Linked DNA regions of Homo sapiens: all the other regions are linked to region 3. The links come from fine-mapping of genetic effects on gene expression. A gene starts in region 3. Each other region holds a variant in brackets. All regions are shown on one strand. Distances are between the middles of the regions. Region 1 overlaps SPATA1 (spermatogenesis associated 1). Region 2 overlaps SPATA1 (spermatogenesis associated 1). Region 3 holds the start of CTBS (chitobiase). Region 4 overlaps LINC01555 (long intergenic non-protein coding RNA 1555). Region 5 overlaps LINC01461 (long intergenic non-protein coding RNA 1461). Region 6 holds the start of LINC01461 (long intergenic non-protein coding RNA 1461).

Region 1 (5,076 bases), 38 kb after region 3:
CTCAGTCCGAGACATAGAGAATGTGGAAAAAATTAAGAATATGGAATACTTGATGTATTCAGCAAGGTAAACCACAGACAAGCCACAAAGTAGAGGAAGATATTTGCAACACACATAAACATCAAAGGACTATCTTCCAGAGCATATTAAAAACTCCTACTAACCAGAAATAAATGGCAGACAACCCAATAGAAATACTTAAAACAGGTAACCCCCCCAAAAAATGGTTATCAAAATGGGGTCCATAAAATATAAGGGTAACCAGGGAAATTAAAAAATTCAAACTGCAGTTAAATAGCATTGAGCATCCACCAGAGTGGAAAACATTTTAAAGTGTGAAGACAGTATGTATTATTGAGGATGTAGAGTAACAGGAAATGTCTTGGATTCCTAGCGGGAGCGTAAATTTGTATAATCATTTTGGAATACATTTTGGCATTATTTAAGTTATAGATAGACATTTTCCAGCAATTCTACACATAAGTATATATTCCTCTCTTGTTTGTGTGTGCTGTTTATAATAGGTAAAATTTGGAAACAATAAAAGTATCCAGCAACAATATAACAACAATTATTTGCTGAAGATGGTATGCCTTTGCTCCCAAACCCAAGGGCTTAGAGCCGTGATTCTCCTACCAGGGCTTGTACAGACTCCATTCAGCATTCCAATCTACTATACATCAAGCATCACTGGATAATCTGGACAGACATTAAAACACTAGTGAGCTGGGTGCAGTGGCTCATGCCTATAATCCCAACACTTTGGGAGGCTGAGGAGGGCCGATTGCTTGAGTCCAGGAGTTGGAGACCAGCCTGGGCAACATGGAGAAACCCCAACTCTACAAAAAAATACAAAAATTACCTGGGTGTGGTGGCATGTGTCTGTAGTCTCAGCTACTCAGGAGGCTAAGGTGGGAGGATGGATTGAGTCTGGGAGGTCAAGGCTGCAGTGAGCTGTGAACACTGCACTGCATTCCAGCCTGGGCAACAGAATGAGACCCTGTCTCAAAGCAAAACCAAAACCAAAACCAATAACCCCACAAGTGGCAGCATTGCTTGCAATCCCTCTGGGATCACCTTACAAGCCTTCTCTTGTTTAAGTCCCACTCAAAGTTGGCAGGCTTCTGATTCAGTTGGTTTAAATAAAAAATAGAGCAGCACATCCTAATGCAGTAAATCTCTCTACAAATTCCAAAAAAGGTCCACAAAGTGCTTTGTTTCATTCTCAATAGTAGCTGGGGCAAGGGGATACCTCAACATGTCGCAGACCATGGAGCTCCCTGAAATTTCTCTGAATTGATAGACTCCTAAATTTTCTTGCAGCTTATCTCCTACCCCCTAAGAAACATATGTCTTACCTAAGGTATCTAGATTATTTGGTATTTCCTGTTTATCAGGTCCAAGGGGATCATGATATGGTCAAGTTGCCTATAAACTAGATTACGACAAGGAGCCAGAATTGACACAGCCCTTAGGCAAAACAGTGAAGGTCTACTGCTATTCCTATTTGCTACTTTTGGTTTTCTCTGCTAATTGGGATGAAGAAAAAAGCATTTTCCAGATTAAGAATGGCATAATAGGAGCATCAGGCTGTAATAATTTGTTCTAATAAAGAGAGGATGTAAGGAGTAGCAGCTACAATTGTCACCACTTGACACTAAGGCCCATTAATCTTCTCCACAGACCAACTAGGTGAGTTGAATGTGGCTATGACAGGAATAACCTTTTCTGCCATTTTCAAGTTTTGATCATGGCACAAAACCCACAATTTGTCCAGGAGGTTGGTAATGCTTTGGTTTACTATTTTGGTAATGAATAGGCCATTCCATCATATTTCACTTGGCCCTCTCTACTATAACATTCCTTATTGCCCATGCTGCAAGCATCAGGGAGGCAGTATGAGGATTCTGCCATTTGCTGAGTAAGTCCTTCAAAGTATACATTCATGAATTAAGGGAATGGCTACAGGGAGAATTTGCAAAGCCATTCAGCACACCAGAAGACTGATTTAGCTAAAACTTCACTTATTATCTGACCCCTCTAAACCTCCACCCTATTGGTGGAACACAGAGTTATTCAGGTCCCCAACGATCAGAATCACATCAAAGCCATTGCCATGAATCCTGAAAAGTATGGGTACCTCCCTTTCTCCATTGTAGTCATCTGGGTAAACAACCTCTCATCCCCTTAAGGAAGGTAAAGGAAATTTAGGAAGGTAAGGAAATTTAGTCCATATTTGTGGCTGAGTGACAGGGTTTTTCCTCAAGGATACCTGGCCTCCCCTTCACTCAATAAGTTCTGGGTATGTAAACTGGCTAAGGTCTCGTAATTTAATAAGGGGATGTGAATCTTCATGTGGTTATTCAAGGTAGACGTCTATTTGTGAAGACTAAAAATAATTTTTGGTTTTACAGACCAATAGCTTACTGGTAGCTTCAGTAAGCTATCCAAAGCTTATCCAATAGCTTATCCACTTCAGTCTCAGGAACATCATGATTAGTCTTAGGGACACCTTGGCAATTAACTATTGTCAAGGATTTCTTAATCATACATCCTTATGATCACTCTGGTACTGTTTTCTCTTATATAGTAAAATGCTGTAAATTGGCTTCTTCGGGGATACTGTCATCTCTAAAGAAATCAAGTAGGCCGGGCGTGGTGGCTCACGCCTGTAATTTCAGCACTTTGGGAGGCCGATGCAGGTGGATCACGAGGTCAGGAGTCCAAGACCAGCCTGGCCAAGATGGTGAAACTCTGTCTCTACTAAAACTACAAAAATTAGCTGGGCGCGGTGGCAGGTGCCTATAATCCCAGCTACTCGGAAGGCTGAGGCAGGAGAATCGCTTGAACCTGGGTGGCAGAGGTTGCAGTGAGCTGAGATGGTGTCACTGCACTCTAGCCTAGGCAACAGAGTGAGACTTCATCTCAAAAAAAAAAAAAAAAGAAAA[A/G]AGAAAAAACAAATCAAGTATAGTCCTATCTTCATTCCATGTGACACAAAACAGCCACTATAAGGTTTTTTAAAAGAATTCTGGGGTTGCCTTTCCAATATATTTCCCCAATGTCTGGTTAAAGAATTAAGTGGGCCGGGTGCGGTGGCTCATGCCTGTAATCCCAGCACTTTGGGAGGCCGAGGCGGGCGGATCACGAGGTCAGGAGATCAAGACCATCCTGGCTAACACGGTGAAACACCGTCTGTACTAAAAATACAAAAAAATTAGCCGGGCGTGGTGGCGGGCACCTGTAGTCCCAACTACTCGGGAGGCTGAGGCAGGAGAATGGCATGCACCCGGGGGGCGGAGCTTGCAGTGAGCGGACATAGCGCCACTGCACTCCAGCCTGGGCGACAGAGCGAGACTCCGTCTCAAAAGAAAAAAAAGTGGATATAAATCTCCTCTTAACATTTTTATATCCCCAAGTCTTCGGATTTCTTGCTCTACTTTTTAACAAGAAATTCTTGGCATTCTAAATTTACTCAGTATGAACCACCATATTGTCCAGGTTTCTGTCAGCCTCACTCAATTTAGCAAAATGTTTTTTACCACTCACAGTTGCTGGAGCTAGCACATTAAATCCAGAATCTCTGATAAGTGTATCCATATTATTAAACTTGAGCCAATTTAAAGTTATATTCTTTCATTCCTGCTCTGAATCTATTTCCAATAATATTTTTCTAAGTTTCTACTAGCATGAATTAACAAAATATTGCAGTTCTTTTGCAATAACCAGTCTGAGATTCTCATTTGTAAAAGTTTTTGGCCCATGTCACACTTTCTGTACCAAATACTGAATCAGTTCAGTGCAGGTTTAAGCAGGAAGAAATGTAATAAAGGAAATTAAGTGTATCAGAAAGACTGGAGGAGCAGGTTCTAGGTCTGGTCTCCTAAAATGATGTTTCCATTAGTGAAATTACCATTGTTGAGGCCATCACCAGAACTACGCTGAAAGCAAGAAGCCATCATTATTATTGCCATTACAACTTCTCACACTCAGGAAGCTGGAGGAAAAAACACTTAATTCATAACAAAAATAGAAAGAAAGAGTAAAACTATTGTTATTCACAGATGACATGAATATGTACGTAGAAAGTCCTAAAGAATCTACAAAAAAAAAACCTGATAGAACTAATTGAATTTAGCAAAATCTCAATAGATGAGTTCAATGTATAAAAATCAATTACATTTCTATAAACTAGCAACAATTAGAAAATAAAAATTTTAAAATACCATTCTATAGAAGCTTCAAAAATACCAAATATCTAAAAATAAATGTAATATTAAGATATAAGAGCAATACACTAAAACCACAGACACTGCTGAAAGAAACTAGTGACATAAATAGAGAAATATATTGTGTTCACAGATTAGAAGATTAAGTATAGTTAGGATATAAGTTTTCCTCCCAAATTGATTGACAGATTCACGGTGATTTCACTCAAAATTCCAGTAGTCTTTTGGTAAGAAATTGACAAGCTGATTCTAAAACGTATATGAAAACACAAAGAATCTAGAATCACCAAAATGATCTTGAAAAAAAATTGACTTGGAAATCTTACGCTATCTGATAACAATAACTACTTATAAAGCCTCAGTAATGAAGATAATGTGGTATTGGCGTAAGGATTAAAAAAAATCATTGAGCAGAAAGGGAAGCTAGAAGTTGTCCTAGATCTTATAGAGTCAACTGAGTTTTGAATAATGCAATAGGAAAAATAAAGTCTTAACAAATGGTGTAGGAGGTGGGTATCTGAGGATCTCAACTGAACCACAACCACAACCTCATTCTGTACATAAAATTTTGAGATTCGTGGTTCTCTTCAAATTACCTCTATTTAACAAAAATTATCACTGAGAATGCAAGAGAAAGGAGGTCTTGATTGTCTGAGGAGAAGGTATGACAGAGTTGTCTAGAAGAATAGTAATGGACCAAGAAAATGTAGTATATTTGTTGGCACAATTAAAGACTCATTTGAAGTTTGTGATTTATTAACTATGGTTGGAATTTTGTCCAATGGGTATGAAAGACATAACCGTGGAAGAATTAATGTAACTTTCTGTGTTTTCGTTTTCTCATCTGAAA
Region 2 (5,076 bases), 30 kb after region 3:
ATAGATACCTTTTATCCTTATAATCCTCAACACAACCCAAAACGGAGGCCTCTCAAATAATTTAGCAACTCTCAAGCCACCATCATGTACTGTCTTCATCCTGCCTCATCAGTCCACCAGTCCTAACAACACTGTTTCTAATTGTACTGCAAGAAAACTTACTTAACTTCCCTCATTCATTCACTTTTAAAAGCAAGGCACACACACACACATATCAAAAAATTAAGTACAGAAGAGACCAAGGGACTCAAAGTAGGCTTCTACAGTAAGTGATATATAAGGTGATCTTGACTGACTAATAGGAAATAGGCAGGTAAACTGGGAAGAGGGTACCTCAAGGTAAGAGGAGAAGTAGATGGCAGAGGGAAAAGCATGCCCGAAGACCTAGAACCAAGAGTGTACTTCAGATCCTAGCATATCCAACACTTTTCCTGGAAGCCTCTCTTGATCTCTTCCATCTAATTTAGGCGTTCTCCCTTTGTATTCCTATCCATAGAACTTTGTAATTCCTTTATCATAGTTTTCATCAAGTTTTTTTTTTTTTTTTTTTTTTTGAGGCAGAGTCTTGCTTTGTCACCCATGCTGGAGTGCAGTGGCACAATCTCAGCTCACTGCAACTTCCGCCTCTGGGTTCAAGCCATTCTCCTGCCTTAGCCTCTGCAGTCACTGGGGCTACAGGTGCCCACCACCACACCTGGCTAGGCTAATTTTTGTATTTTTAGTAGAGACGGAGTTTCGCCATGTTGGCCAGGCTGGTCTCGAACTCCTGACCTCAAATGATCCGCCTGCCTCGGCCTCCCAAAGTTCTGGGATTACAGGCATGAACCACTGCGCTGGCAAGGATGTATCATTGATGCTTAACTTGCTTATCATTTCCCCACTGGACTGTAAGATCTATGTGGGCAGGGACAAGATTGTGTCTGTCTTAATAGTGTCTCCTAAGCCCCTAGAATAGTGGCCAGATTCAATAGGCATTTGATAAATGAATAGAAGAATTAATAAACAAGTTAATGAGTTTCAGTTATGAAAATATTTGAGTTTTAATTTTAAACCCTATGTAAAGCATTTATTCTATAAAGTAGAGTTGCATAATAATTTCATGTTTTCTATATTGAACTTAATCATGTACCACTTAAACTAAAATAGTAAAACAGTAAATATTAATTATAACTTTATTATTTATTCTAAAAGGATCAATTCTGTAAAACTTAAGTTTTCTTTATAGTGATAAAAGGTATGTAATAAACTTTACCATGATATCGTTTTAATTTGCTTTGTTCAAATAGCTTTTCAACCGTTTTTACTAGTTCTTCTCTATTTCTTTCCAGATACCTTCTTTCTTCCTTTACTTGTTTCATTTGTTTGATAATCTTCTCTCCTAAAGAGATTATAACTCATATTCATCAATGTCTCAAAGCTGAAAGATGGCTCATATCCTAAAATATGGAGTGTAAAACTTAAAAATGTCTAAAGCAGCAAGAATAAATTTTATCCCAAACTGTTTTTCTTGCTACAGTATAGCATTTACCATGTGGAAAATGCAAAGGAGTCATTTCAGTTTCCAAGAGTGATATATAAGGAGATTTATAAAATAGTGTGTTTTTTCTGCATTTCATATATGTGTAGAAACTAGGTAAAGCTCAAGCAGTTATGCTGATATTCTTTGGTTTAACTCTTTTGGTAAATTTATCTGGGATTCAAAATTATTGTACTTAAATCGTACATAGAAAATGTATATTTTAGGATTATATATATATGATATATATATGATATATAAATATATATATATTTTTTTGAGATGGAGTCTCACTCTGTTGCTCAGGCTGGAGTGTAGTGGTGCAATACTGGCTCACTCCAACCTCTGTCTCCTGGGTTCAAGCGATTCTCCTGCCTCAGCCTTCTAAGTAGCTAGGACTATAGGCAGCTGCCACCACGCCTAATTTTTTTGTATTTTTTTGTATTTTTAGTAGAGATGGGGTTTCACCATGTTGGCCAGGCTGGTCTCGAACTCCTGACCTTGTGATCCACCCACCTCAGCCTCCCAAAGTGTGGGATTACAGGCATGAGCCACCATGCTTGGCCAGAATATATATTTTAAAATGAAATAATGTTGGTGACTAAACATATGTAGTAATAAATATAAAATCCCTGGGCCAGGTGCTGTGGCTCACACCTGTAATCCCAGCACTTTGGGAGGCCGAGATGGGTGGATCACTTGAGGCCAGGAGTTTGAGACCACCCTGGCCAACATGGTGAAATCCCGTCTCTACTAAAAATGCAAAAATTAGCCAGGTGTGGTGGTGCACGCCTGTAATCCCAGCTACTCGGGAGGCTGAGGCTGGAGAATCGCTTGAACCCGAGAGGCGGAGGTTGCAGTGAGCTGAGATCACGCCACTGCACTCTAGCCTGGACAACAGAGTCAGACTCTGTCTAAAAAAAATAAAATAAAAATAAAATTCCTATAATTTAACTTTTTTATTGTTGTAGAACATATTACATAACAAACTGTACCATTTAAAATATTTTTAAATGGTACAGTTCAGTGGCACAACATTCACACTGTTGTGAAACCATCACCACCACCCATCTCCAGAACTTATTTATCTTCTCAAACTGAAACTCTATACCCATTAAACAGTAACTCCCCATTAACATTATTTACTTTACCTCACAGAATCATCTGTACTTACGATTGCACTATACTTACTTTCAGTTTGTAATAAAGATATATCAGTTATTCCTGAAGAAAGAACAGGTTGACAAGGAAGTGAAGGGTGATCTGGTAGGGTGATGTACTCTTTTTCAGCTGTCTGTAAGCAAACGTGAAAATGAGTAAGATCGGCTACACTGTCACATTCTTTTTTCACTTGCCCGTAGGTATTTGATAATGCAAACCAGAAATGCATTCTTTTTACTTAGTGGTGATGAACTCCAAATTTTGTATTTATAGCTGCAGATTCTCTCCCATGTTCTGGTCTCTGTATTCTATTACTTGGACATTATAAACAAGTACTTCAAACTTAAAATTT[A/T]AAAAAAATCTGTTATTTTTCTTTCTAAACATGATTTCCTTCCAAGATTTCTGGTCTCAGTTACCTGTTATGATAACTTTAAATATTTTCTAAGATGCCTATTAATATTTTTTTCATCTTGAGTCAATTTTGATTATATTTGCTTAGAAAATTGGTAGTTCTGTCACATGTCAAAATTTTAGCAGATAATTTTACATTTTATTCTAATATATCTTATCTCCTCTGTGTTTGTGTTTCTGTTGCCTTCATCTTTCCTAATTTTTGTGTTTCTACCTGATATGATTTGGATCTGTGTCCCCATCCAAATATCATGTTGAATTGTAATCCCTAAGTGTTGGAAGTGGGGCCTGGTGGGAGGTGATTGTATCATGGGGGCAGATTTCCCCATTGATACTGTTCCCCTGATAGTGAGTTTGTTCTTGTGAGATCTGATCATTTAAAAAGTGTGTGGCATCTCCCCCACTCCTTCCTCCTGCTCCAGCCTTGCTCCCCCTTTGCCTTCCACCGTGATTGAAAGCTCCCTGAGGCCTCCCCAGAAGCAGATGATGCCATGCTTCCTGTACAGCCTGCAGAACCGTGAGCCAATTAAACCTCTTTTCTTTATAAATTACCCAGTCTCAGGTATTTTTTATAGCAGTGTGAGAACAGACTAATATCTACCCTTTTTGATGAATTACCTCAAGCCTTACCATGTTGATGTTTCTCCCACTATCACTTTATCGATCTTGAATTGTTTTCAATTATGCTTCGGTACCTCATTAGTTTTCACTTTTATCTTCATCAAGCTCTCACTTCTATTTTGTTTGTCTTACAGTTAGTCCCCGTTATCTGTAGCTTCACTTTCTGTGCTTTCAGTTACCCACGGTACAGTACAATAAGATACTTTTAGAGAGAGAGAGGCCACATTCACATAACTTTTATTATAGTATATTGTTATAATTGTTCTATTTTATTATTATTGTTTTTGTTATTGTTTACTGTGCCTACTTTATAAATTAAACTTTGTCATAGGTATATATGTACAGGAAAAAACACAGTATATATAGTATATATAGGGTTGAGTTCTATCTGTGTTTTCAGGCATCCACAGGGGGTCTTGGAACGACAGATAAAGGGCAGAGTACTGTATTATTTTTCTAGCTTATTTATTTTGTTATGTTATAAAGTTGAGTTCCCACAGGATAATGGCAGCCACCTAAATTAGAATTGCTCCACAAATCTTCCAAACTACCATAAAAAGAAGCCAAGTAAAACCACCCAAATTTATGCCTACAACATAATTTGGGCACAGAATCCTTTACATGTAAGTGAGGAAATAAAGACTACTAGATCAGAGTGTGGTCAGGAGCCCACATCTGAGCAGAGAGTCAGATATGGACTATGTGTCAGCACTGTACATAAATAATAGCAAACACCAATCACGAGTTAGCCTGGAAAGAGAGGGCTCTACCTGAAGTGGAAAAATAGAGCAAAGAAAAAAAACCTGGTAGATTCTATGAGGAATTCAAAAGAAAGGATTTGAAAAACACAGGGAGTCAGAGGCAGTAATCATGGTAAGACATAGCTTCTGGGAGAGAAGAAAATGCTTTGAAAGGGAGAGATGTCCTTGGGAGCCAGTTTGGTAAGAAAAAAGAAGAAAATGGCCAAGGCAAGAGCTCCACTGAACTAAGCTAGTGGAAAAGAATCCAAAGAAAACATACCCATTTCCCCAAAAGGCCCCATTTACTTAAAAAAAGAAACATAAATAACTGCATTTCTTGGGAGGCCAAGGCGGGTGGATCACCTGAGGTCAGGAGTTCAAGACCAGCCCGGCCAACATGGTGAAACCCCGTCTCTACTAAAAATACAAAACTTAGTCGGGTGTGGTGTCGCACGCCTGTAATCCCAGCTACTCGGGAGGCAGGAGAATTGCTTGAACCTGGGAGATGGAGGTTGCAGGGAGCTGAGATCGTGCCATTGCAGTCAGGCCTGGGCAAGAGAGCGAGACTCCATCTCAAGAAAAATGAAAATAAAACAACAACAACAAAAAAACAAACAAACAAAAAAA
Region 3 (5,076 bases):
TGACATTCTGGAAAAGGCAAAACTATGGAGACAGTGTAAAAATCTGTGGATGCCAGTGGTTAGCAAGGAGAGAGGAATGAATAGGTAGAGCACAGATAATTTTGAGGGCAGTGAAACTATTCTGTATGATACTATAATGCTGGATACACATCATTATACATTTGTCAAAGCCCATAGAATGTACAGCACCAATATAAAATTCAATACAAATATGTAGGAATTCCTCATTTGGTTAGTATGCAGAAAAGAGTTACCGTAACAGGCCTAAGACTGCGATCTTTAGAAAGGCCTGCTTCCTGAAGGTTGGCCTGTAGGTGGATTTGGGAGTGTTCCTGCTGTTCCCTGAGTCTCTAATGAGCTTCCATGGCAGACAGCCCTTCACACATGTTACAACGTGATGCTTGTGCTTGGCCTCCTCCTGTCTTCTTCCTGTGCACTTTTTCCCTTTGCTCTTTTGCTTCATATTCTTCTGCTGTAATAAATCTTAACTGTGAGTACAACTGAGTCCTATGAGTTCTTTTAGTGCATCACTGAACCTGGAGGTGATCTTAGGGATCCCTAACACAGGTAGATATGTGTTTTCTTCTGTGTCACAGAATACAGTCTGATTCTATGAGTCAGAAGGCTCTTTTCCTTGAAAACTTGATTCAGTGCAACCATTCATGTTAAAAACATAGTTACATTTCAGTATCATGAGGGATTGGTTCCAGGACTCCCAGATACCAAAATCCATGGATGCTCAAGTCCCTTATATAAAATGGCATAATCTATGCACATCCTCCTGTACTTCAAATAATCTCTAGATTAATTATAATAATACGATGTAATGCTATGTTGACAGTGCTCTTGCCGTATTTTTATTTGCATTTTTAAATTGCTGTATTATTTGTTATTTTTAAATACTGTTATCTGACATTGGTTAAAACCATGGATGTGGAACCTCTGGTTATGGAGGTTCAATTGTACTTTTTTTTTTTTTGAGACAGGATCTTGTTTTGTCACCCAGGCTGGAGTGCAGTGGCATGATCATAGTTCACTTCAGCCTCAACCTCCCGGCTTCAAGCAATCCTCTCATCTCAGCCTCCCGAGCAGCTGGGACTACAAGCTTTTACCACCGCACTGGCACACAGGGCTAATTTTTTGCTTTTTATTTTTTGTAGAGACAGGGTCTATGTTCCCCAGGCTGGTCTCAAACTCCTGCCCTCAAGTAATCCTCCTGCCTTGGCCTGCCAAAGTTATGCAATTGCAGGTGTGAGCCACAGTGCCTGGCCTAGCTTTTCATTCTGAAAACGCGTGTTCTTCAGTCCTGGAGCCTTGATAATTACTTATTTCTTTTCTTTTCTTTTTTTTTTTTTTTTTTGGAGACAGAGTCTCACTCTGTTGCTGAGGCTGGAGTGCAGTGGTGTGATCTCTGCAACCTCCACCTCCCAGGTTCAAGCGATTCTCCTGCCTCAGCCTTCCGAGTAGCTGGGATTACAGGTGTCTGCCACCATGCCCAGATAATTTTTGTATTTTTAGTAGAGATGGGGTTTCACAATGTTGGCCAGGCTGGTCTCAAACTCCTGAGCTCAAGTGATCTGCCCACCTCGGCCTCCCACAGTGCCGGGATTACAAGCATGAACCACTGTGCCCAGCCCAAATTACTTATTTCTTCTTATTTGTACTACGCTGCTTCTCAAGCACCTTTAAGAATTATTTATTTCATCCCCTCTGTACTGCGTTTTCCAATTTTCTTATCTTTCAGAGTTTTTGCTCTACATTCCTCAGTGTTATCTTCTACTAATAGTTTTTTCACTTCTTTCTTATTTCTATTAACTTTTAAAAATCCCCTACCCCTTTTATTGCACCCTGTTGTGGCTTCATCTTCTCTTATTTTTCTGGGGCTATTATGAGAATTTTTAAAAGTGTTCTCCCTGCAGCATCTGCTTCCTCCATATTCCTTTGTCTGTTGTTTGGGTCCCTTCTTTCTACATTATTGGATTTTTTTGGTTGCTGTCCATGATTAAAAGTAAAAATTAAAAAGTACAAAGAGAGGAAGCTCCAAGTAGATAGCTGGTGCTTTTAACTTTGAATTTCACTGTAGGGTGATCTGGGTGTATGATTTGTCCAGAAAACCCGATGTCAGTATCTTTGCTCAGCCTCTTAGGTTAATCAGATAGCGAGGGGTTTCAGTTTTCAGTAGGCATAAAGCCACTTATTCTCCGTTTTAGGTGGAATACCCACTCAGCAGAGAATTTATCCCCTTCAGGGAATTCAGCCGGGGTGGGAGCCCGTGGTGGGAAAGAGGGGCAGCTGCCCAGAGACATGAAGCTGGAAAAAGGATCTAGCGATCAGAGTCCTTGAGCAGCCTTTGACTAATCTCCCCCTTTTCCGATTTACCTCTCATACTCATACTTGTGCTCTCCAGCTTCCAACATTTTGTTGCTGTTATCTCTTTGTCCTTGTGTTTAGGTTGTTAAACTTGATTTTTAACAGGAGAGTAGGCAAAATTAGATGCTTGAATTCAAACCACGATCTTAACTAAGACCTGATATCCGTAAGTAAAAATTTTTGGTATTCCAGCTTTCTTTTGAGTAGCAAAAGAAAAACAAAGTCTTTTGGCCACTCCAACCATGTTACTCAGTAGGCCCTTCCAAAGACACCCACTTCTCCATTTTGGGGATCCCCTTGTACCTTCAGACTCCACAAGGAGTACACGACCAGCCACGACAAAACGAGATGCAGACTATTGGGAGGACTATAAACGGTAGGGGTGATACCCATTTGAGTCCACGAACGGCCCTCTCGGCGCCGCAGACACTGGCTGTCCCCCGAGACGCTCCAGCAGCCACTTAACTTCACCCACCTGTAGCGCCCGGGGACGCTCGAAGCCCGACCTCCCACGCCCGCCCCGGAGCCCCGCCCCTCCCGCCCCTCCCCGCCCTTCCCGACTCTCCCCGCCCCTTCCTGCCCCGACGCGCAGCAGGCCCCGCCCACCCAGGCGGTAGGAACCCACTCCGGCCCGCTAGACCTGCTGCTATGTCCCGGCCGCAGCTTCGACGCTGGCGCCTCGTCTCTAGCCCGCCGAGCGGCGTCCCGGGTCTAGCGCTGCTGGCGCTGCTGGCGCTGCTGGCGCTGCGGCTCGCGGCCGGGACCGACTGCCCATGCCCGGAGCCTGAGCTCTGCCGCCCGATTCGCCACCATCCAGATTTCGAGGTCAGCGCCTTCCTCTGCTCCTCTAGGTCTGGGCTTCAGGGCACGAAGAGAAGTTAGGGTAGAACGGAGCCCTAAGGAGAGGTGCCGTGGGCGCCGAAACCAGCTTTGACCACTCGATGAGGGCCTTCCTGTTTACGGATCCTTCAATTTATAGATGAGGAAGCTCGGGCTCAGAGAAGTTGAGTAACTCCTCAGGCCTCACAGCCTGTAAGTGCCTGCGTAGGCAGGCGAGAGTTCAAACCAGATCTGCCTCCTAAGGCAAGCTCCTTTCATTCCCCTGCTGTGCCTCTGCGGAAGCACTCTGGGTGTAAAAAGCAAACAAGGTAGGATAATCCATTTATGTTTCCAAGGAACGAGGATTTCGTTTGAAAGAATCTCAGCACTCCAACAGTACATTAGAATGCAGAGTATTTTGCTTACCTTTAGTTTTCTATACCTGCTAGCCCTTTCCTTTAAAGTACCTCAAAACCACCCATGAAGAGTGGTAAAAAAAATAGCTTTCAGTACATTTTCCTTCTATCTACATAACAATTTGTAAGGCTTCTGGCAACTTTAATCAAACACCTTCTGGAGCAATATTAAAACCACCTGACTGCCCACTTCGATGACTGAAAGCAGGAATTGGATGACATCAGGAAGGTCCAAAGGCTTAATTCAAAGAACGATTCTTTTGTAGAAATAGGCATGATTCCTAGTTCTTAATCTAGTACATTAATCTGAGGCAGAACACTTAGATGCCAGTAAAAAAGTATATATACATGACTTAGGAGAAGAAATAAAAATGGTGAAAGTGTTTATGGAGAACCTGCCTAGTGTGGAAACCTAACATCTTATTAAAAGAAAGACTTCAGACAAAGTAGGATAACCTTTTTTATTTGAGCAAAGAACAACTTATGAATCGGCAGTACTTAAACCAGAAGGGGTTCAGAGAGGTCTGCTTTAGTAGCATGGGCTTTTATAGGCCGAACAGGGAAGCAAAGGAAAATAATTACTTGGTTGGCTATGACTGTTTGCCTTATTTAGCTATGACTTGGTGGAAAATTACTAGTTAGAGGTTAGTTGGCAGTTTCTGATAGGTTAAGCTTAAGTTTCCTTTCACTGTTGACCTTGGGCTGGAGTTTGCTTAAGCAGGAAATCCAAGGCAGTTGGAGCTGTTTCAGCATAATGGCCTCCCAATTAAAATGTTTTATACAATCTGAGGCCCAGCGCGGTGGTAGAGGCAGTGGGGACAGTAGCTGTAAAAGTTCAACCAGACATTTCTTAATTTTCTCAATCTCTTTTTGAGATTGAGAAGCACTTTGTGAGGCCAAGGTGGGTGGATCACTTGAGGTCAGGAATTCGAGAACAGCCTGGCCAACATGGTGAAACCCCGTCTCTACTAAAAATACAAAAATTAGCTGGGCGTGGTGGCGGGCACATGTAATCCGAACTACTTGGGAGGCTGAGGCAGGAGAACCGCTTGAACCTGGGAGGCGGAGCGGGAGGCGGAAGGTTGCAGTTAGCCAAGATCACGCCACTGCACTCCAGCCTGGGCGACAGAGCAAGACTATGTCTCAAAAAAGAGAAAAAAAAAAAACCTGAAAGATTTACTGTAGTACCCAATACTTAGTGGGTTAGGCAATATCTGTGGGCACTTTGAAAACCAACTATTCAAAGAAGCAAAATTATGCTTATTTGTATCTTCATGGTAAATGGTCTTTTTCTCTACTGGCGTTTTCTATGTTTTTCAAACACAAAAACTAGACTACATGGCATTTTCCCCTTATATTTTCAATTAGTTCACCCAGCTTTTTTTTTTTTTAAGGATATCTGTTATATCACAGGCTCTTAGTATTTTTTAAACAAATAGAATCTTAATTATCAGAACTAAAATAGAAGTTT
Region 4 (5,076 bases), 52 kb before region 3:
TTAATCTCCACATTTCATTATCTTGGGCTAGATTTCGGGGGAGGGGCCTAATTTAGCTGGCATGTGCCCCATTGGGTGAATCGAATAAAAGCATAGCTGCCCTGGCATGGATCTGTGAACAAAAGTTCTCTGAAAAGAAATTTGGAAGAAAGACTTCATTCAGGAACAGTTCACAAACTTTCTGTGTAAACCAGTTACTTTCCAGAGAACAAAGGGAGGATCCTGGTTTTATAGTAAAAGTTCATGCTCAGGTTGCCAATCAGGTCCATTTTATGAAAATGAAGGCTTTAAATTTGCTTAGTTCTGTTTGGTTGATGCAGCTGCATTCTGATTAGTGGTTAGAACTGAGCCCTAATTGGTTCTTTCAGATGAGCTCTGATTGGCTGCTTTAGGTGAGCTCTGAAAGCCCCACTGTTAAACTGAGGTTGGGGGTTTCCAGGGAAACTCCGAGTATATGAGTTCTAGTCAGCAAATGGCCTGGCCACTTGGCTCTCTTTAAAATTTTGGCCCAGTTAGGTACTTGGGATCCATCTTGAAGGATTGGCTCTTGAAGGATTTGTTCTGAGAACACTTGTGAACTTGAGAGGCCCAGTAAGGCAGAGTGAAAACCAGAACGCTTGGCACCTATCAGTTAGCACAGGATCCTTCCCTGGAACATCAGCATCCCTTATAAGTGTGTCTAACGGCCAACTCGTAGACAGAGCTATTGTTAATACACTGTTCTGAGTATCCCTCTGTGAACACCTTCATCTGGTTGATACAGGAAAATTAAGGAAGACAAAGTTTTGGGAAAGTGATTGAAATCGTGGAATAATCAAAGCAAATCAATGGCAGCTTGTGTTTAAAATTAAAAACCAACTGTCAAGCATGGCATTTACCTAAAGTAATTTCCAAAAGTAATCAACAGAGTGAACAACACCCAGTGGGCCAGGACCATGTCAACGTTGGCTCATTTTCAGAAACAACATGGTGTCAGGGCTCCATGTTCATGGACACCATGAGGGGAGTCTCCTAGCAATGACCCTCTTCTCTCCTGCAGGAAGTCCAAGGTCCTTTGCATGGCAGTCTTATCCCCAAATGGCATTTGCTTTCGACCCATGGTATTTCCATATTCCATGAAGAAAACTTTAAAAATATAGGCAAATCACCCTGCAAGTATCCAGAGAGTTTCCAGGGGGTTTCTCACACACACACACACGCACACACACACACACACATGTTTAGTGGGGATCTTTTAGGTCAATACATATAGATCTACATCATTATTAGTTGTTGCTTGGTGGGCCACTGCATGAATGGTTAATAATTGTTTAATTTTTCCTAGTTAGACAATAAAGATTTTTAAAGAATATATCTTTGCATACTTGCTTATTTATTTGATTAGGATAAATTCCTGAAATTGGAATTGTTAAACCAAGAAATACGCATATTTTTAAGGCTTTTGTTATGTTTTGTCAAATGATCCTCAGAAAGAATGTTTATTAATTCACATTTCCACTAGCACTACACGATAGAACTATTGGGTATTTTTTATGCTGTTACCTTTGCTGGTTTTATAAATAAAATATTCTCTTGTTCTTCTTGTCTTTTTTTTTCTTTTACTACTGAACTTGAAGATTTTTTTTCACATTTTCACTAGCCATTTATATTTTTTCTACTTCAAGTCTTTACTACTTTTCAATGAGGCCTATCCTGACCACCCTACTTCAAATTGCAAACCAACCCCCCGACCCCTGACATTCCTGATATCCCTTTACCTTTCTCTGCTTTATCTTTTTTCCTATTGTAATGATCATTTCTAACATAATATATAATATACTTATTTATTAATAAGTACGTCCTCCCCAGCCAAGTTCTGGGAAGTGGAGGGGACTCCGATCACATCGAATATACAGCCTCTTCCTTGGCTTAGATAAGAGACAAGACAAACTCTTATTCTCCTGACACTGCAGCTCCTGTCCTTAGATGACTCGGGGATAGTTATTTTACCTGGACTTAAAGGTTATTCCCAAACTGCAGGGAACATGTGAAATATCATCTGACTTCCTAATTTTTTGTTCATGTATATACATACATACATATACACACACTAATATATATATATATATGTGTGTGTGTGTGTGAATATTTTAACATTTTAAAGTTTATGAAACTGGAATATGTTTTATGCTCAATGTATACATTAAACATACTTGGCTTGTTTTTCTGAAAAGCTGTTATTTATGATTTATGTCCAACTGATTATGTCTTAAAATAATAAAATATATAAAGTGAACCCTAGTGCCACTGACAGTGTTTAGATTACAACTCTAGACCTCTTGAAAAATTGTTACAAGAAGAATATCATTTACTTAAAATTGTTAAAGAAGCATTCTGATTCCTAATGTTTAGTCTCTTTTATTATTTATTTCAGAACAGAGTCATACAATAAATGTTGACAGAGTGTCTACTATATGTTAGACACAGTTCCAGGTACATAGGATACATTAGACTACAGCTGGGTTAGCAAGCTTTTTCTCTCAAGAGCCAGATAATAAATATTTTAAGCTTTGCTAACCGAGAGGTAAAATCGAGAATATTAATGTAGTTACTTACATAATAAGAGAGAAAACAAATTTCCACAATTTTCTTATTGATGAAATTCATAACAAAATAGCAGTAATCAGTTTTAAAGTTACTTTTCTCTACCATCAAAATTAATTGCAAATCTTAATTGGTTAATGTCAACTTGCAATGAGATTTTACATA[T/G]TTTGTCCTTAAAAATGTCCTTTCACACAGATAGGTTCTACCTAATACCAACATCTTTCCATGAACGTATCATTTTAATTGAACATATTTATTGTTTGGAAGGTGTTTATAGAATTAGATTATTGGCTTAATATTTGTCATTTAGGATGCCATTACATTCCAAATTAATCACTTCCAATTGGAGGTTAGGTGAAGCTCTTTAATTATAAGTTAAATGGACTTTGAAATATGAAATTTTCATTGCATTTGCTTTGAGGTCTGTAACAAATGGCTGAAAGTGCATTGGCAATGTGGCCCACCCAATCTGCAGTGTAGGATGCCAACCTGCATTTGGAAATACAAGGCAAAGGGTTCATTCCACCAGGAGATGGAGTTGGCAATGGAAGTGGTCAGGAATTCAGGTGATGTTCAGGTTCTAGTCCTCACAGCATCTGAGCAGAAACCCAATCCCATGGACCAGGCCAGTGGTTCTCACCCACAGCTATGTGGCAGGAAATTAACTACGATACAGTATTAATGCTTGTGAATGCATTGTTTTTCTAACGTAATTTAGGCCCAATTCAATCGTATCCTTACTGTTATTCCCACACGATTGCAGTTTATTCGTTGTTGTTGTTGTTGTGTTTTTTTGAGAGAGATAGGTATGGTTTAACTATTAGCATGGAGGATGTGTGCTGTGCACATAAACATCGCCATGTGAGGACTGGAGGAAAAAAACACTCACCTGAGATGCAAGACTGCTATCAAGAAATGACCCACTAAATAAAAACAAAAAACAAGAAACAGAAATGACCCACTGCAGCAGTGCTGTAGGAGCTCAGAACTCACCACCTCAGAGACCATGGTAATGGCAATGAAGTAACTCTACATCCCGCATATCCCTGGATCACAGGCTACTGATGGATTGCTGGTGTTGGCTTTCTCCAAACTGGATGGCTCTTGTTTTAGTCCGTTTTCTGTTGCTATAACAGAATACCACAGACTGGGTAATTTATGAAGGAAAGAAAGTATATTTAGCTCACAGTTCTGGAAACTGGGAAGTCCAAGAGTATGGCACTGGCATCCGTGAGGACCTTCCTGCGGCATCATAACATAGCAGAGGGCATGACATGGCAAGAGAGCAAGAAAGCCACAGCTTGCTTTCACAAAAAAAGCCACGATGGTGACATCCATTCATTCATGAGAGCGGAGCCACCATTAATCAATTTATGAGAACAGAGGGATTAGGTTTCCAACACAAAACTTTTAGCGGACACATTCAAACCATAGCAGCTTTTTACCTGCAGGTTGAAATTGATCACTTCCGCATTGAAGTCACAGGATATTCTTCTCATTGAGGTTTGGAAGGAGTTGTCTAAAGCGTTTCTCCTGGAATTCCTGCAGAAAATAGTTAGCTTAACCCATTGCTGCCTGACCCTGGCTGGGGGAGGGTGGTCAGAAATGAGGTACCCCAAATCAGAATATTAGGGTTGCATTGAGTACTTTCTGGAAGCTGCCTGTGCATGTACGTCCACCTTCTGAGAAACCCCTTTTTTCCCTAATAAACTACAAAGGAAAGTGAGGGGAATGGGGGCAGTAGTGCTGATGGCAGGAGAGATAGTAGAAGCTCTGAAAATGCTGCCTCCAGGCCCTACCTATCTTTTGCTCTGCTCATATGTACTGGAGAGAAGAAGGCTCTCTCCTTAAACAACAACCTTTGCAGAAATCCTATTCACAGCTCCCCAAAGGCTGAGAGTGAATTTTCAAAAGATGAATTATTGTACTATATAATTGGCTTAACTTAATATCTGGGTAAACGGAGCTAGCACTGGCTCAGTTTGGCGGGGCTTGCTCTAGGAGCCTCATTTTCTTCTCTCCCTGAGGACAGGATCATGTGCATGATGTCCTTGTGCCCCCACTGTCACCAACTGCAGTGAGAAAGGTAGCTCGGAAAAGGGGTTCTCAAAGAAGCCTACAGCAAAAGGGTTATCCCTCAGGGACAGCATGGTGTGTGCCTGTGTGCACATGAACATCATCTTAGATAGTTCATTTTGTCTGGACACATTGGTTCAGCTACAGCGATTAACTGCATGGTGGCTTGAGCTCTATTCCCGGTGGCTGGGTGTCCAAACTGGTCCTTGAGCAGTGCTCACAGTCACAGGAGCCACAGACTGCAAGACTCACCCCTGAACACAATGAGCACTTAGCACGGGCAGTGAGAAAGCTGTTTATCATCCTCTGCACCTGGGCAAAAGAGACGAATAAATCCTAATGTGAAAGTTCTGACTTTAGGTGAGGTATTTCACCTTATCCTGTCCTCAAAAGTCATCTCTAAATGTTCCTGCTTCT
Region 5 (5,076 bases), 21 kb before region 3:
AAAAAGGTTGAAGACTATGTACATGAACGACATTCTAGGCTATCCTCAGGTGGGTTCCAAGACTAGGGCTCCCAGCTTCTTCCCTGGATCAACACCCAATGGGCGTGGCACTCAATACCTGCTCTTTAATCAGTGCTGTACTGATTTGATCAGTACTTTTCAAATTATGTCCTACGTTGTCTGAGATGTTCTACTCAGGAGCCCTGGTGAGGGATGATGTGTGAGAAAAATTCAAGTATCTCCTCTTCTAAATTGAGAAGTCCTAGCCTTTGTCTTAAAATTGATTTTGTGTGTTAGGCTTTCACTTTTTTATTAGATGGTAAATGCTCCATTCTTCAAACAACAATGATAGCTCAGGAGGCCAAGAATATGTGTTCTGATTTGTTCCTGAATGTCACTGCGTCTAACATGAGACTCTGCTTCCACAGGCACTTAACACATACTTATGAGACTGCTTTCTCTCAACTTCATTTCCACATGGAAACATTTGGAACCGAGTTTCCATTCCTGTGACTTTCATTGTGGGAAGACAGAAAAGAACCCAGCCCAGATTTTTCATTAAGCATGTTTAACACAATAATAGTGAGATGAAACTGAGGGTGAGAGGTTTTAAACCTGTGATGTTGTGCTCTTTTATGTAGGAGAAACAAAGTTCTGTTTTGCCTGGCATCATGGGAGAACTGTGATTGCCTGTTTGATATTGTGTAGATAAGCTAAGCTTGCACAAACTATTGAGATGATTGCCTGGCATGGGACATAAAGGAGTCATTAATTTCATTCCTAAGTGACAGGAAAGCAATAGCCATGCCTCTGGTTGGTTTGTACTTACACAGAGAGAAGTCTACAAAAGGGAGAGCTTCACTTATATACAAATGAACTCTGAAGAGCCACTGAAGTGCCCTGATCACTGAAGTTGTAACCTAGCAAGTGACCCAGCCTTCACTGAGCTGAATGAGGTTGCCATTTCCCAATTAAAGTAGGACCCGGGATGGTAGAACATCAAGGATCAGGAGATTTTCATTTTCAGCTCTACCGCTATTAGCTGTGTGACTATGAAAAAGTCATTTTGCCTGTTTAGGCTTCAGTTGTATCGTTTGTAAAATGGGAGTCATAATAACTCCATCAAAAGGTTATTGCAAGAAATAAATATCCCAAAATGACTACCTGACATCACAAATGATCAATTTAAGGTTGTCATTTCATTGGAAAAACGTGGTCAAATCGGTTGATTTGTGTCTGTGGCCCAAAGAAATTGTTACTAAAGTATTCATTTTTCCTCATTATTATGATTGGAAAGTGTCCTCTCCAAGATTCATGTTGGAACTTAATCTCCAAAGCAATCCTATTAAGAGGTGGGGTCTTTAGGAGGTGATCCGGTCATGAGGACTGCTCCCTCATGGATGGGATTAAAGCCCTTAAAGAATAGCCTTCACACATGGTTTGAACCCTCTTTGCCCTTCAGCCTTCTGCCATGTGAGGATGTGGCACAAAGGTGCCATTTGGGAGCAGAAACTGGACCCTCACCAGACACCAGACCTGCCAGAGTTTAAGAGCATTAGAGGCCACGGTAAGGACTCTGTATTTAATTTGGAATGTGATGGAAAGTGGTAAGATTTTTTTTTCATTTTTCGTTTCTGTTTTTGTTATTTGTTTCAATTTTTTGAGATGAGGTCTCTCTATGTTGCCCAGGCTGGACTAGAACTCCAAGGTTCAAATGAGTCTCCTGCCTCAGACTCCTCAGTAGCTGAGACTACAGGGGTGCACAACCACACCCACCTGGAAAGTGGTAAGATTTGATTTATGATTTTGAAAGATACTTCTGGCTGCTTTGAGGGAATAAGAGGTTCAAATAGAAGGCTATTACAGCCAGCCCAAAGAGAGGTGATGGTTATTTGGACTAAAGTAGTACAGGAAGGAGGACCTTGCATGGTTTTTCATCATAAAGTTCAATGCTGTAATCAGGGACTGTTAATATGAAACCATTTTTCTCATGCTCAACCATAACATGGGGCTCTATAATGAAAAAGAAAAATTCAAGTAGAAAAATTGGATTCTAATATTCCCTATCATGTCTCTATTATTTTTAAATATTAAATATAATTTTATATGGAAAATTATGTTTCACATAACACAAGTTCGTGGCCATGGAGGCTGCTGTTGAGGTGGCAGCTGCTGCTGCTGTGTCAGAGCTCGAGGTGTCACTGACCTGCTGCCGCTTTTGCTACTGTCTTTGCTTTTGAAACCTTTCATTTTTTGAATCCTAAAAAACCAAAATATTTTTCAAGAATATAATAGGACACAAAATCTTTTCACAGAATTTACAGAAGTGCCACTAACAGTCTGGAAATGTTTCTCTGACACAGTTTGTGTGTATGAGTGTGGGTGTTTTATTTTTAAAGCTTTGAGAGTATAATCTGTTATTTTGAAGGAAGACGCACTCCTCAAAAATAATTGGGGTTTACTTGATGTAAGATCAAATCTTTAGGAAAGGTTTTTTGTTGCCTTTTTTTTAAACTTTAAGTTCAGGGCTACATGTGCAGGATGTGCAGGTTTATTACATAGGTAAACGTGTGCCATGGCGGTTTGCTGCACACATCATCCCATCACCTAGGTATCAAGCCGAGCATTCATTAACTATTCTTTCTGATATTCTCCCTTTTATCTTCTCCACCCTC[C/T]GACAGGCCCCAGTGTGTGTTGTTTCCCACAATGTGTCCTTGTGTTCTCATCATTCAGCTCTTACTTATAAGTGAGAACATGTGGTATTTGGCTTTCTGTCCCCGCATTAGTTTGCTGAGGATAATGGTTTTCAGCTCTATCCAAGTCCCTGCAAAGGACATAATCTCATTTTTTATGGCTGCATAGTATTCCATTGTGTATATGTACCATATTTTCTTTATCTAGTCTATCATTGATGGGCATTTAGGTTGATTCCATTTCTTTGCTGTTGTGAATACTGCTGCAATTAACATATGCATGCATGTGTCTTTATAATAGAATGATTTATATTCCTTTGGGTATATACCCAGTAATGGGATTGCTGGGTCAAATGGTATTTCTGCCTCTAGGTCTCTGAAGAATTGCCACACTGTCTTCCACAATGGTTGAACTAATTTACACTCCCACCAACAGTGTAAAAGCGTTCCTTTTTTTTCCACAACCTTGCCAGCATCTGTTGTTTTTTGACTTTTTAATAATAGCCATTCTGACTGGTATCTCATTGTGGTTTGGATTTGCATTTCCCCAATGATCAGTGATGTTGAGCTTCTTTTCATATGTTTGTTGGGCACATATATGTCTTCTTTTGAGAAGCATCTGTTCATGTCCTTTGCCCACTTTTTAATTTTTTTGTTGTTGTTGTTAATTTATTTAAGTTCCTTGTATACCTTTGTCAGATGGATAAATTGCAAAAATTTTCTCCCATTCTGTAGGTTGTCTGTTCACTCTGATGATAGTTTCTTTTGCTGTGCAGAAGCTCTTTAGTTTAACTGGATCTCGTTTGTTGATTTTTGCTTTTGTTGCAATTGCTTGTGGAGTCTTCATGATGAAATCTTTGCCCATGCCTATGTCCTGAATGGTATTGCCTAGATTTTGTTCTAGGGTTGTTCTAAGGTTTTTATAGTTTGGAGTTTTACATTTAAGTCTTTAATCCATCTTGAGTTGATTTTTGTGTATGGTGTAAAGAAGAGGTCCAGTTTCAATTTTCTGCATATGGCTACCCCGTTCTTCCAGCACCATTTATTAAATAGGGAATCCTTTCCCCATTGCTTGTTTTTGTCAAGTTTGTTGAAAATTAGATGGCTATAGGTGTGTAACCTTATTTCTGGATTCTTTATTCTGTTCCACTGGTCTATATGTCTGTTCTTGTACCAGTGCCATGTTGTTTTGGCTACTGTAGCCTTGGTAGTATAGTTTGAAGTTGGGTACTATGATGCCTCCAGCTGTGTTCTTTTTGCTTAGGATTGTCTTGGCTATTCGGGCTTTTTTTTGGTTCCATATAAATTTTTAAATAGTTGTTTCTAATTCTGTGAAGAATGTCAATGGTAGTTTTATTAAAGCATTGAATATATAAATTGCTTTGGGCAGTATATGGGCATTTTCACAATATTGATTTTTCCTATCCATGAGCATGGTATGTTTTTCCATTTGTTTGTATCATCTCTGATTTCTTTGAGCAGTGGTTTGTAGTTCTCCTTGAAGGGGTCCTTTACTTCCCTTGTTAGCTGTATTCCTAGGTATTTTATTCTTTTTGTGGCAATTGTGAATGGGAGTTCATTCATGATTTGGTTCTCCACTTGCCTGTTGTTTGCATACAGGAATGCTAGCAATTTTTGCACATTGATTTTGCATCCTGAGACTTTGCTGAAGTTGCTTATCAGCTTAAGAAGTTTTGGGGCTGAGAAAATGGGGATTTCTAGATATAGGATCATTTCATTTGTAAACAAAGATAGTTTGGCTTCCTCTCTCCTTATTTGAATAGCCTTTCTTTCTTTCTTTCTCTTGCCTGATTGCCCTGGCCAGAATTTCCAGTACTATGTTGAATAAGAGTGGTGAGAGAGGTCATCCTTGTCTTGTGTCAGTTTTCAAGGAGAATACTTCTAGCTTTTGCCCATTCAGTATGATATTGGCTGTGGGTTTCTCATATATAGCTCTTATTATTTTGAGGTATGTTTTTTTAATACTGAGTTCATTGAGAGTTGTTAACATGAAGGGATGTTGAATTTTATCAAGTCCTTTTCTGCATCTATTGAGATAATCATGTGGGTTTTGTCTTTAGGTCTATTCATGTGATAAATCACATTTATTGATTTGCATATGTTGAACCAACCTTGCATCCTGAGGATGAAAGCTCCTTAATTATGGTGGATAAGCTTTTTTTTTTTTTTTTTTTTTAAGACCGGGTCTCATTCTATCACCCAGGCTGGAGTGCAGTGGCGCAATCTTGGCTCACTGTAACCTCTGCCTCCTGGGTTCAAATGATTATCCTGTCTCAGCCTCTTGAGTAGCTGGGATTACAGGAGTGTGCCACCACTGAGACAGTGTCTCACTCTGTCCCGCAGGCTGGAGTGCAGTGGCACA
Region 6 (5,076 bases), 46 kb before region 3:
AAAAGATTCTAAGTGCATAGAGAATAATGGGCTCACCCTCCCACTAGTGAACACTTAAGAATCTGACATCTTCCACCCATTTCTCTGTGTCCCTTGCAAGGGGACAGTCATGCCCTGGGCAATCCCAAGGAACACTCCTTTCCCATCTTCTACTGGAGATGGTGGAAGTACCATCTAAAAGTCTTAGGTGCTACATTCTGGTACTGGCCCTTTCATGGCCAAGATATGTTCCTTTGGGCAAGTTGTTCAAACTCTCTAAGCCTAGTTTTTCAACTGCAATAAAGATGATTCCAGTTCAAAATCTGGGCAAGTGTGAGTTACTGCCACTACGTGCAGTCAAGTTCTGTCATGTTTCCTCCATCAAGCTACCCAGCAGGCTTGGGAGAATCAAATGTAAGGAGGTGTAATGCTACCAAGTTTAGAAAATCTACTAATGCTGCTTCAAGACAACAACTTCCCTCCTTCTAGCTCATTTGAATCCCACAGCAATCAGGAAACATAACTGTCAGGTAATATTTTTATTTCCTTTTGGGATGAGCAAACTAAGCTTAAGCGAGGTTAGGTAATTTACTCAGAAGCACATAGCTAATAAGCAGACTAAGAAGAACTTGGGCCTTTAACTGAATACTGCAGACTTTCTACCCCACTCGCTGACTCTATTAAAAACGCAAACTGGCCAGACCAGGCATGGTCCACCAGTCTTACCAGTGTCACCCAGGTGCTGGCTTGTATTAGGTTGGTGTAAAATTAATTGCGGTTTTGGTCACTACTTTTAATGGCAAAAACTGCAATTACGTTTACACCAACCCAATACTTCCTGATGCCTTTATTTTTACCAAGCAGAAGGGGAATGCACCCCTTCCTCATGCTTCCACACAGGAAAATATACTCTACTAAGCATTGCTGAGCAATGTTGATCTCACTAGAGACTTCATTTCATGGGGATAGAAACATTGGAGAATTTGACTTTGTATCTCCACACACCACATCATCATCACCACCAAAGATGGTTTTTTTCCTACAGGCTCTTCTCTCTGCCTCAGCCTCTATCAGGCTGCAGATGACCAGACAGGGAGAAAAGAAGGGGAGAGAGAGAGAGAGAGAAAGAGAGAGAGAGAGAAAGAGAAAGAGAGAAAGAGAGAGAGCGAGAGAGAGATAGAAGCAGAGCCTAGGATGCTACATGTAAACAGTGAAGTAGATACACCACTCCCAAATCAATGACTGTAATCCAAACTCTAACCACATCCTGCAGAGAGGGGCAGGTTCAGAATTTCCATAAGGAAGAGTGTCACTTAGGGGGCCCAATCTAGCTGGAAGGAATGGGGGTGCATTGTTTTGACACTGCATGTGCAAAGCAAACACATTGTTTTCATTTAGCTTGTGTGCTTATCTGGGGTGACATTGGCAAATCAGAAACATGACTATATGAAAGAGTGTTTGTGTGGAGGAAAAAAAAGACAAAGACAGTGACCAAAGAGACTTCAGCACTCTGCCAGGTGAAGGAAAAAGGTGCAAAGGCCCAGACTGTTCCCCCAGTCGGGAACTCACAGCCTAGGAGGGAGGCATGTAGTCAGTGAAACTCAGCAGGAAGAAGCATGGGTCCAGGGGTTGGGATGGGGGCTGAAGTTCCATCATATGATGAAATACTCTCTGAGCATTCTAGTTTTTTATTTTCCTATTTTGAGACGTTGTTTCACTCTTGTTGCCCAGACTGGAGTGTGATGGCACGATCTCAGCTCACTGCAGCCTCCGCCTCCCAGGTTCAAGCGATTCTCCTGCCTCAGCCTCCCGAGTAGCTGGGATTACAGGCGCCCACCATCATGCCCAGATAATTTTTCGTATTTTTAGTAAAGACGGGGTTTCACCATGTTGGCCAGGCTGGTCTTGAACTACTGACCTCAAGTGATCTGCCCCCCTCGGCTTCCCAAAGTGCTGAGATTACAGGCGTGAGCCACCGCGTCCGGCCCGAGCCTTCTAGTTATGAAAGTGAACTTTGAGACCAAGTTTTCTTCCTCCCGGGACCCACTGACCACCGCCACCTACTTACCCCCAGCCAACAGCTGAGGAGGAAAAGACAAGCTTTCTTGGGAACCAGAGCAGTTTATCAAACCAAGAAGCAGCAAGGCCCCGTTTTTAAGGCCAGGGAGCCCCTACTCCCTGCCATTTGGCCGTTCTGTGTTCTCTTCAACGGCGCCAGTTCGACACGGGGCCTGACTCCTCGACAGCATTGCCTGGTTGGTTTAAATATATACTTACCATGATATATAATTGTGTATAGAAAAAGACACTAGGAGAAAATACCCTAAACATGTGTTTATCTCTGAATGATGAGATTAAAGGTATTTCATTTTCTTTTTTATGCTGTGTTTTCTACCCCCCCAAAAAAATTTTTTTATAATGAATACGCATTACTTTGGAGAATAGAAAAAAAAATTGTTTTTGCTTTAGAAACACACACACACACACACACACACAGGTGGAGGGAAATAAGGAGGGAGAGGCAAGGAGGTGGGAAATAGCCATAACCCAGTCTCAGGAAGCCACGCGTGGCTGACCCAGGCTGGCAGCCCCTCCCGCGGGGATAGGGGGATCTGAGGCCCTCCCTGCCCGCCCGCTCGGCCGCCCGCGTGCCCCGCCCCTCGGCCCCGGCAGAGGGCGCTATGGAGCCGGGCGCTGGTGAGTTCTAGCCCTTCGCCAGGAACGGCGATTCTCAGCGTCCTCTCCGGTGGAGGACAGAAGGCATCCCAGGGTCGCGGGAGAGCCAGCGCAAAGTGGAAGGCACCTTGTACGCTGTGAAGCGGAGATGCAGATGTTACCCTAACCAGAAGCCCACCCCGCCACAAATACTGGAGCGCCCAGCATGCGTGCGCCACCCGCTTCCCTGCAGAGGGCGCCGCGGGCCCGCCTCGCCGAGCGCGGGGTGAGATCCCAGTAGCCCAGAGCAGCCCGCGGGGCAGGCCCGGGCTGCCGCGGACTCCTCTTGGTAAG[C/A]CTCCTGCGCCCAGAGCCTCCCCGCTGGAGCTCCACCCTCGCCCGGAGGCGGCTTGTTCACCCAGCGTGCGCCCAGGGGAGCGCCTGAGCCTGACGTGATCCCATTGCCCCCGAGACCCCAAGAGTGATTGCATTGGTTTTGCAAAAAAGGAAGGACGGAAGGGAGGGAGGGAGATAATACATAATAATATGTAGTTGTGAAAAATTCAAATAACGTGTATTTAAAAAATCAGTTCTTTCGGCCGGGAGCTGTGGTTCACGCCTGTAATCCCAGCACTTTGGGAGGCCGAGGCGGACGGATCATGAGGTCAAGAGATTGAGACCATCCTGGCCAACATGGTGAAACCCCGTCTGTACTAAAAATACAAAAATTAGCTGGGCATGGTGGCAAGCGCCTGTAGTCCCAGCTGTCTGGGAGGCCGAGGCAGGAGAATTACTTGAATCCGGGAGGCGGAGGTTGGAGTGAGCCGAGATTGCGCTACTGCACTCCAGCCCGGCAACAGAGCAAGACTCTGTCATAAATAAATAAATAAATAAATAAATAAATAAATAAATAAAAATTAAAAATCAGTCCTTTCTGCTGACTCCAAGTTTTAGAGCCTTACTCCTCTAATGCAAATTTTAAAAATCTCTGAATCTGCCTATCATCTATAAAACCCCTGCTTACCTCTGTAAGCCCCCTACTTCAAGATAGCCTGCCTTTTCTGCTGAACTAATGTATATGTGCCCTGTATTGATTTCTGTCTTCGCCTGTAACTCCTGCCCTCCTGAAATGTATAAAACCAAACACATGCGGCTGCCTCGGGACCACTTACTCAAGGCTTCTTGGGTTGTTTTCCGGGGGCGGAGGTTACTCATACTGGCTTGACTAAGCCTCTCTTTCAGATATTTTACAGACTTTGATTTTTCTGTTTACAGTATTAATCAAAATGTTAACATTGGTAACTTCTAGGGGTAGAATTATGAATGATTCTTGTTTCCTGAATGTTCTACAACATTCAGAAATGGTGTATTTGGGGTTGGGGGAGAATTGTTACTATTTTTAAATCCCATCTACTCTTGGGGCTGTCCTCATTCTACATAAACAGACTAATTCCGGGTGGCAGCTCTGTCTTTTTATCGTGCACGGAGAGATTAATCATCTCCCACCTACACCAAGCAGCACTTTAGGTTCCCTGGGTAACAGAACTGAAGGTTTGTATCTCAGTGACTAATGATTATAATGCCCTTGGCTACTTCCTGTATTTTTACCAGCTCCAGGAGCAGAGAACGTTCCCTGCTGGCTTCTGGGAAATAACAAACACAATGGTGATGCTATCAAGTCTCTGTGAATTTAAAAAAACCTTTACAAAGGGGCATTCTTTCTGTCTTGTTTTTTTCTGTTTTGTTTTGTTTTTTGTTTTTGTTTTTTTGAGATGGAGTCTTGCTTTGTTGCTCAGGCTGGAGTGCAGGAGCATGATCTCCGATCTCGGCTAGGTGCAAACTCCTTCTCCCGGGTTCAAGCGATTCTCCTGCCTCAGCCTCCGAAGTAGCTGGGACTACAGGCGCCCACCACAACGCCCAGCTAATAATGTTTCTATTTTTAGTAGAGACAGGGTTTCGCCATGTTAGCCAGGCTGGTCTCAAACTCCTGACCTCAAGCGACCTGCCCGCCCCGGCTTCCCAAAATGCCGGAATTACAGGCATGAGCCACTGTGCCCGGCCGCATTGTTTCTTTTTGAATCTTCAAAAGCAATTTTTAAAATTTTCTTTGATTTTTGAAGGCAGAAAACCCAAGTTCTGATTTGAAGCTTGTTCTAATCAACCTAGAGTCTTTTTGTCTTTGGGAGCTATATAGACATTACAAGTCTCTTCCTTTCCTTCCCAGCAGAAAAGCCTTTGATGCTGTATTCTTAGCACATGGAACCCTAAACCAAAGCCTGCACTGGGGCATTTGTGAGAAGCGTGTGTGCAAAGCCTGAGAGACTCCCCTTTTGGGCATGCTGCTGGGCAGGGGTGTTCTGGTTTGACTTTGTACATGTAAGTGACTTATTTTAAATACATGTATTTTTTAATCACAATTTTAAAGGTAAATTAAAATGGTTAACA

The links. PIP is the estimated chance that this variant, and not a neighbour inherited with it, causes the effect.
Region 1: its variant is fine-mapped to the expression of CTBS in blood mononuclear cells (TOPMed, PIP 0.95).
Region 2: its variant is fine-mapped to the expression of CTBS in whole blood (TOPMed, PIP 0.97).
Region 4: its variant is fine-mapped to the expression of CTBS in whole blood (TOPMed, PIP above 0.99).
Region 5: its variant is fine-mapped to the expression of CTBS in whole blood (TOPMed, PIP 0.99).
Region 6: its variant is fine-mapped to the expression of CTBS in prefrontal cortex (CommonMind, PIP 0.95).

What each region holds. Positions count from the first base shown.
Region 1 is chr1:84,534,749-84,539,824 of GRCh38, reverse strand. The region is part of intron 8 of SPATA1 (spermatogenesis associated 1); the gene reads right to left. Among named protein-coding and RNA genes, the nearest start is that of GNG5, 31 kb to the right of the region's middle. The variant A/G (reference allele first, on the strand shown) is at 2,949.
Region 2 is chr1:84,541,936-84,547,011 of GRCh38, reverse strand. SPATA1 (spermatogenesis associated 1) reads right to left here. Exons shown (of 14, transcript NM_001397487.1): 9 at 2,708-2,810; 10 at 1,253-1,378. Among named protein-coding and RNA genes, the nearest start is that of CTBS, 30 kb to the left of the region's middle. The variant A/T (reference allele first, on the strand shown) is at 3,030.
Region 3 is chr1:84,572,358-84,577,433 of GRCh38, reverse strand. It overlaps CTBS (chitobiase), which reads left to right and starts at 2,994. Exons shown (of 7, transcript NM_004388.3): 1 at 2,994-3,195. The coding sequence starts at 3,019. RefSeq lists a silencer at 2,862-2,981 and enhancers at 3,142-3,431, 3,542-3,641, 4,355-4,404.
Region 4 is chr1:84,624,734-84,629,809 of GRCh38, reverse strand. LINC01555 (long intergenic non-protein coding RNA 1555) reads left to right here. Exons shown (of 3, transcript NR_027379.1): 3 at 1-1,580. Among named protein-coding and RNA genes, the nearest start is that of LINC01461, 6.2 kb to the right of the region's middle. The variant T/G (reference allele first, on the strand shown) is at 2,749.
Region 5 is chr1:84,592,922-84,597,997 of GRCh38, reverse strand. It overlaps LINC01461 (long intergenic non-protein coding RNA 1461), which reads left to right. Exons shown (of 3, transcript NR_125761.1): 3 at 1-34. Among named protein-coding and RNA genes, the nearest start is that of CTBS, 21 kb to the right of the region's middle. The variant C/T (reference allele first, on the strand shown) is at 2,676.
Region 6 is chr1:84,618,664-84,623,739 of GRCh38, reverse strand. LINC01461 (long intergenic non-protein coding RNA 1461) reads left to right here and starts at 2,709. Exons shown (of 3, transcript NR_125761.1): 1 at 2,709-2,983; 2 at 4,856-5,007. RefSeq lists silencers at 2,507-2,746, 2,837-2,906. The variant C/A (reference allele first, on the strand shown) is at 2,989.